2 linked regions of the Homo sapiens genome follow. The protein of the gene in region 1 interacts with the protein of each later gene in a biochemical or structural test. Each region holds a gene or a part of one and is shown on either strand. Other genes may lie near its edges.

Region 1 (3,813 bases):
CCTAGATGTGGTCAAAGACACAGCCCCACTCCTGGGAAGTTGAGAACACAGAACTCTCCAGTTTGTCCACCTTCTTTAAACCCTCTAAACTTGTGCTTCTCTGAGAAGCCAGATATAGAAAAGTATTTAGTTCTCCTCATCCCAACTCACCATGCTAGGTGCCCTCCACCCACCGCCCCTTCTCTTCCTCTCCTCTCCCCGTCAGTGTTGCAGAGGAGCAAAGTAAAATGTCAGCATTGCCATTTCTTGGAATATAAAAATTCTAATGCTTTTGTTTTTTAAAAAATATTGAAGGGACAACAAATAAATGGCATGGGGAGAAAAGGAGAGTGACCTTATTAAAAGACAAAATGTGTGAGCTGTTTGGATCTTGATGTTAAAAAAAAAAAAAAAAAAAAAGGCCAACACATTTTGGGGCCAGGCACAGTGGGAGGATCACCCGAGGTCAGCTTGACCAATATGGTGAAACCCCGTCTCTATTAAAAATACAAAACAATTAGCCAGGCATGGTGGTGGGCACCTGTAATCCCAGCTACTCGGGAGGCTCAGACAGGAGAATTGCTTGAATCTGGGAGGCAGAGGTTGCAGTGAGCCAAGACTGAGCCACTGCACTCCAGCCTGGGCGACAGAGTGAGATCCCTCTCAAAAAAATAAAAATAAAATTCCCCAGCAAAAAAAGAATGGGAGTTTGAGGCTGCAGTGAGCTATGACTGCCCCACTGCACTCCAGCCTGAGTGACATGGCAAGACCCTGTCTCAAACAAACAAAACAACAAAAAAGCCCTGCGTCTACTGTTCACCTGCTTTTTTGTATATGTTTGAAAATTTCCAGGATACAGTTTGAATGAAGGGGTAATATGGGAGAACTTAGCGGGGTGGCGGGCGGGGGGACAAGTCTCCTGGTGTTCAGGGGCTTCCCAAGGACACAGACAGGAAAGGGAGACCAGAACAGCCCCACAGCGCTCACAAGTGGAAACCCAGCCATGTGCCCTTCGGCCTTTTCTTCCTCCCTCCCAGCCCTGGCTCCACATCCACAAACAGGGGTTAAATGCGCTGAAACAGATCATATGAAGGAGCTCTCTGAAAGCTCTAAGAAAGTCATGCATCAGCTGTCAAAGGGGGTCCCATTCTTTCTCACCAGAAGAGGGCAGCACTGTGTGGAACAGGCTCCTGCCTCTGGTGGCGCTGCAGTGGGTGGGTAGGGGGAGTCTAGGCCTAACTCTGTCCTGACCTAAGCCTGCTCAGGGCCTGGCTGTCTGCACTGTGCACCTGCACCTGTACATGTTCCCAGAGCCAGGAGCTCCTGGGGGAGGGCAGTGCCTACACTGAGTGCAGGCCCCCACCTAGTGAACCACAGGCCCCTTGTTCTCAGGAGCCCTCCTTACCTGAGGAGCTGGTTGTACTTGGCCAAGCGCTCAGATCGGCAAGGGGCACCAGTCTTGATCTAGGAGAAAAGAAAGGCCATTTGCTTACAGCGGACAAGCTTTGCAGGCATTTCTGGCAGGGAGAGGGTGTGGTGTCAGAGAGAGAATTTCTAGAGGATCTGATGCTAGGAAAGTGGGGGCCACAACATACAGGCAGGGCGCTCATGCCCCCATTCTGTTCAGCCTCAGAAACAAGAGCACTGACTCAGGGGACATGAGCAAAACGGGGACAGACATGGAGCCTCACTGGTTTTGGGTCTTCCTAGGAAGTTGAGGTCAGAGAAGAAAGGAGGAGACGCTCATTCTTACCTGCCCAGTGCACAGCCCCACAACCAGGTCAGCGATGAAGGTATCTTCAGTCTCCCCCGAACGATGAGACACCATGACGCCCCAACCATTGGCCTGGGCCAGCTTGCACCTGGAAGCCAAGGAACAACCCAGATGGCATGATCCCATTTTCTGGTTCCATAACCCCCAATGCCATTACCCCTCGGTGCCAGCAGGAAAGCAGTGGAGGGGCTGTTAATGGCTAAAGCCCTCCATGCCTGGGCTTTGTCAAGAGCACAGAGGAGAACCCTCACCCTCCCCTGAACTCTTCCACCCCCAGGACCTTCTTAGCCCTCCTGTCATAGTTGAAACACTGGGTTCAGCCTCCCTTGATGGGAGAAAGATTAGTGTTCTCTGACAGAGCTCTTCACAGAATACAACTACTTGCTATGTTGCCCAGGCTGGTCTTGAGCTCCCGAGCTCAAGTGATCCTCCTGCCTTGGCCTCCCAAAATGTTGGGATTACAGGCCCCAATTGTTTAATTTAAAAGGCTCCTGAGTTCAAACACAAAACCTGTTAAAATTCCAGCGAGTCCTACATTCTGGCCAGCAGGATTCCCCATCACCAGAACAAAAGGGCCCTTTTCTGATTCACAAGCCGTAGCTGCGGGAAAGCTGCTCGCCTGGGAAGACACTTACGCCTGAAGAGACTCGGTCACGGAGCCAATCTGGTTGACTTTGAGCAGGAGGCAGTTGCAGGACTTCTCGTTCACGGCCTTGGCGATCCTCTTTGGGTTGGTCACTGTGAGATCATCCCCCACTACCTGGATTCCTGCACTGGCTGTGAACTTCTGCCAAGCTCCCCAGTCATCCTGGTCAAAGGGATCTTCGATAGACACCACTAAGGAAAGGAGGGACACGCTTCATCAGTGTGATCCTCCCAGTGTGCTCCACCGCAATGCCCAGCCTTGCTTCCCCCTTGACTTGCTGCTCGCCTGGCCTCACAATGCCCAAAAGCATAGGATGGGGACAGCTCCCCAACTGATCCTTGAAACAATGTGCCCCAGCCTACTCCTGCAGCAGGGGACAAAAGTCACCCACAATCCTGGGTATCTATAGATCTAAAACAAAAAAAATCTCACTCTGTCACCCAGGCTTGAGTGCAGGGGTGCAATCATAGCTAAGTGCAGCTGTGAAATCCTGGGATCAAATGATCCTCCCACCTCAGCTTCCTGAGTCGCTGGGACTATAGGGGTATGCCAACCTACCCAGCTACTTATTTTATTTTATTTTTTTGTAGCAATGGAGTCTTGCTATGTTCCCTAGGCTGATCTCAAACTCCTGGGCTCAAGTGATGCCGTTTCAGCCTCTCCAAGTGCTAGGATTCCAGGCGTGAGCCACCATATGCCCAGCCTCAAAAATTTTGTTTAAGACCTGTAAGAAGAGGACACTTTTTGTCTAGGGTTGTTTGAGTTTAGTGCCACTGAAAATCAGAATGGAGCCACAGACTCAGAAGTGAGAAGACCTGAGTTTGGGTCTTGGCTCAACCTTGACCAAGTTATTTAGGGTAGTGGTTAAACACACAGACTCTGGAGTCAGATTTCCTGGTCTGAATTCTTGCCCCACCATTTGCTGTGTGCTCTCGGGCAGATTATTCAGCCAGCCATCAGCTTCCTCTCCTGTAGAAAGGTGGTCACAGTCTCTATCCTGTGCACACACACAGCCTAAAATGAATATTCCCAGCTCACAGGAAGCATGATACATCTCAGTACCAAGTGGCTGTTCTGATTCTGAAGGCTTGGTTCCCTCACCTGTCTAATGGAGCACAGACTGCCTCTGCTCCTGACTGTGAACAACTTATTATGCAATGTCGCTGCTGGCACCCGAGCTCCTTAGCTACACAAGAACCTCTGTGAAGCCCTGTGTATGCACAACTGGGGGCAAACCCAGTGGTGAATCCCCTACGGGAGCTGGAAGTTCAGACACTCCCTCCCCATCCCCTCCTTGCAGCCATCACCAGCCAGCCAGATGCTCCAGCTGCCCTGCTGCAGGTCAGTGGCAGGAAAGGGAGATGGCACTCGGGGAACACTCACCTGGGTAGTCCTTGATGAAGGACTTGTACAG
Region 2 (3,813 bases), on another chromosome or scaffold:
AGAAAAATGCTCAAGGCTACTAGAAGTAGAAGAGACCCCTTTAGCCAACACAGTCAATAAAACATCTATTGCCCCCTGTAGGTATCCCTAATGCTTTTTGTAATTTTGTGAAAATTGGTTGGGAGGGAGGACCATTCTAAATTGTCAAGGGAATGCATTTTAGAGCTAAAAAGCACCAAGGAGATCATCTGGCTTCACCCCTGTGATTTTCAGATGAAGAAAGTAAGGCACAAGTAAGTAAAATGACCTGCCAAAGTCATGCTGCTGGTTTGTGGTAGAATCAGGAGAATCTAGGTCTCCTGCCCCTTGATCCAAAGTGCTTTCCACTGTCCTCGAGGTTGCAATCTTAGCCAGCCCACAGACCTAGGTTTGGGTATGGAGTTCTTTGTTTTTATTTACCCCACAGTGTTTTATACAATTTTTTGAATAAGCATCCTACACTTAAAAATTGGAGATTTCACAAAAACATCCAAATTTTCAGCTTCCCTTGAAAAATTTAAAGATCTGGCAACACTGGGCCACATTTCCAAATGGCAAGGCTCACGTGGAGCTCAGTGACTGCCCCTCCTCCTCCCAAATGCAGCATTTCCTCTCCAGTTCACCACAGGCCCCACCCGGCCCACAAAACATATTTATATCATCTGCCTGGTCTTGTGTAGGCATTTTCATGGGAGACCTCTGTACTAAACTATGCTACAAACAGTTCAAGAGGGTGGGATTGCTGGTAGAAGTGAAAGGGCACTAATAAGGTAATTCCAAACATTTGCTATTTTGGGGTCACTTGCTAGAATTTAGAAGAGAAGCACTTTCTAAGACTGCACCTGGAGAACAGAGTAGAAGATCTGTGGAGAAAGTTCCAGGATGTACTCAAGAATTACACTGATGCCACAGAGGATCGAAAGGCTGCCTTTGAGACCCTGCAGGTGAAGGATGAGAAGAGCTCCAAAGAGATTGAAGTACAGATGAAAAAAATACAGAAACTACAGGTTAGTGTAGCCACCTGGAAATACTCACTGCTTTAACTGCTCTATTATCCCCTCTTTTGCTTCCCCTTGTTTCCCCTGGGCCTCATCACTGATCATTGGTTGGGAAAAGATGATATGCTCTGATTTCAGTCCCCAGGCAGCCCTTTTACCTGTCTCACTGAAGACCCTCAGTTGGTCAAGTAGATTTCCCCTAATCTACTCTGTTCCTCTAGGATGCCATAACTATTTCAAAAGGCAAGATCATGATACACAGCCGTGAGAGTGAAGATGAGAACCGGTATATCCGTAATGACAAGGAATTGGTCCTTGTACAACTGCGAAAACTTAAGGCCCAAAGAACTCAGGCCCGGGCAGCATCCCAGAAGAACTTAGTCAGACTCACCCTGGAAAGTAATGCCACCCTCAAGGCCCTGAGAAAGATTGTTGATAAGGTAACACAGGGGAGAGGACTATCAGAATAAAGTCAAGGAACCTGCCTCCCTGCAAAGTGAAAGGGATTTGGAAAGGATAGCGGGGGCTTCTTCCTGCTTCCTGGCTGAGTGGACACTTGGAATACCTTTTTTATTCCATGTTTCCTCCCCTCTTACATTAAATTAAATTAATTTATTTATTTATGTATTTCTACAGATGGGGTCTCACTGTGTTGCCCAGGATGGTTATGAACTCCTGGCCTCAAGCAGTCCTCTTGCCTTGGCCTCCCAAAGTGCTGGGATTAGAGGCGTGAGCCACCCTGGTGAGCCCCTTCCTACTTTTTTTTTTTTTTCTTTTTGGTGAGACAGGGTCTCACTCTGTCTCCCAGGCTGGAGTGCAGTGGCACCATCTTGGCTCACTGCAACCTCTGCCTCCTGGGCTCAAGCATTCCTCCCGCCACAGCCTCCCCAATGCACAGCTAACTTTTGTATTTTTTGTAGAGATGGGGTTTCGCCATGTTGCCCAGGCTGGGTCAAACTCCTGGCCTCAGACGATCTTCCCACCCTGGCTTTCTAAAATGCTGGGATTACAGGCATGAGCCACTGCGTTGAGCTCCCCCTTACATTTTAATTAATTATTTTTTTTTTTGAGACGAAGTTTTATTCACTCTGTTGCCCCGGCTGGAGTGCAGTGGCATGATCTTGGCTCGCTGCAACCTTTACCTCCCCAGTTCAAGCAATTCTCCTGCCTCAGCCTCCTGAGTAGCTGGAATTACAGGTGCGCACCACCACACCCGGCTAATTTTTGTATTTTTAGTGGAGACAGGGTTTCACCATGTTGGCCAGGACGTTCTCGAACTCCTGACCTCAGCGATCCACCCACTTTGGCTTCTCAAGTGCTGGGATTACAGGCGTGAGCCACCGCGTCTGGTCTACATTTTAAATTGAAATGAATTGGCCAGGCATGGTGGCTCATGCCTGTAATCCCAGCACTTTGGGAGGCCAAGGTGGGAGGATTGCTTGAGCCCAAGAGTTTGAGACCACCCTGAGCAACACAGGGAGAGCCCATCTCTACCAAAAAAAAGCTGGGCATAGTGGCACATGCCTGTGAGCCCAGATACTTGGGAAGCTGAGATGGGAGGACCACTTGAGCCTGGGACATCGCGGCTGCAGTGAGCCAGGATTGCACCACTGCACCCCAGCCTGGGTGACAGAGTAAGACCCTGTCTAAAAAAAAAAAAAAAAAAAAAAAAAAGAATTAATAATGAATGAGTTTTGGCTGGGCGCAGTGGCTCACACCTGTAATCCCAACACTTTGGGAGGCCGAGGCAGGTGGATTACTTGAGGTTGGGAGTTCGAGACCAGCCTGACCAACATGGAGAAACTCCATCTCTACTAAAAATACAAAATTAGCCAGGCATGGTGGCACATGCCTGTAATCCCAGCTACTCGGGAAGCTGAGGCAGGAGAATCGCTTGAACCCTGGAGGCAGAGGTTGCGGTGAGTCGAGATCGCGCCACTGCACTCCAGCCTGGGCAACAAGAGCGAAACTCCATCTTAAAAAAAAAAAAAAAAAAAAAAAAAAGAATGAGAGAATGAGTTTGTTTTTTTTTTAAAGGAATGAATTATTAATAATGAATGATTTTTTTTTTTTTTTGAGACAGGGTCTCGCTCAGTTGCCCAGGCTGGAGTGTGGTGGCACCATCTCGTCTCACTCCAGCCTCTGCCTCCTGGGCTCAAGTGATCCTTCCATCTCAGCCTCCCCAGTAGCTGAGACTGTAGGCATGTGCTACCATGCCTGGCTTTTAAATAATTTTTTGTAGAGATGGGGTCTTTCTATGTTTCCCAGGCTATGAATCAATTTTACAATAAGAAAATACTTGGAATAGTGTGTGTTACATGGTAACCTCCATTTGCTATATGTATTTATTGCTATTGTTTCCCACTTGGATGAGTAGCTTCCCTGGGTTCAAACAGGGGAACCAACTCCACTAGCTTCCCTCTTCACTCCCTTTCCTAATATAAACTCTCTTCCCGCTTCAAATAGGGTGAAAAGATCCTTAAACTTGCTGAAATATGTAGGAAATTTGAAACCGAAGAAGAAAAAGTGCTGCCTTTTTATTCATCAGTATTGACTCCTAAGGAGCAGGAGGGGATTCAGAAGAATAATCTAGAAGAGCTTACTGAGGAGCTCACCAAGGTAAAGCCCGGGGGATGGTGGGGCATTGGGCAGCATTTGCTAATGGGTCTCGCTGCACACCTTCTCCCTGTAACTCCACTCCCAGGTGATGGTGGACTACATAGGAATGGAGAATTTCTGGAAAAGGTACAACAAAGTGAAACTGGAGCAACTGAGCCTCCAACATAGACGAGCCCAGCTGCTAGATATCAATGGGAAGCTGCGGGAGATGCTGAAG

What was found.
Region 2: the proteins of ENO1 (region 1) and DRC2 form a complex in vitro, tested with the Homo sapiens proteins (one study listed by BioGRID).

What each region holds. Positions count from the first base shown.
Region 1 is NC_000001.11:8,861,503-8,865,315, forward strand, and holds part of ENO1 (alpha-enolase), read right to left. Parts: coding exon 3,783-3,813; intron 2,591-3,782; coding exon 2,389-2,590; intron 1,842-2,388; coding exon 1,733-1,841; intron 1,444-1,732; coding exon 1,385-1,443; intron 1-1,384. UniProt on the Homo sapiens protein: Glycolytic enzyme the catalyzes the conversion of 2-phosphoglycerate to phosphoenolpyruvate. In addition to glycolysis, involved in various processes such as growth control, hypoxia tolerance and allergic responses.
Region 2 is NC_000012.12:48,917,487-48,921,299, forward strand, and holds part of DRC2 (dynein regulatory complex subunit 2), read left to right. Parts: intron 1-788; coding exon 789-986; intron 987-1,198; coding exon 1,199-1,417; intron 1,418-3,443; coding exon 3,444-3,596; intron 3,597-3,681; coding exon 3,682-3,813.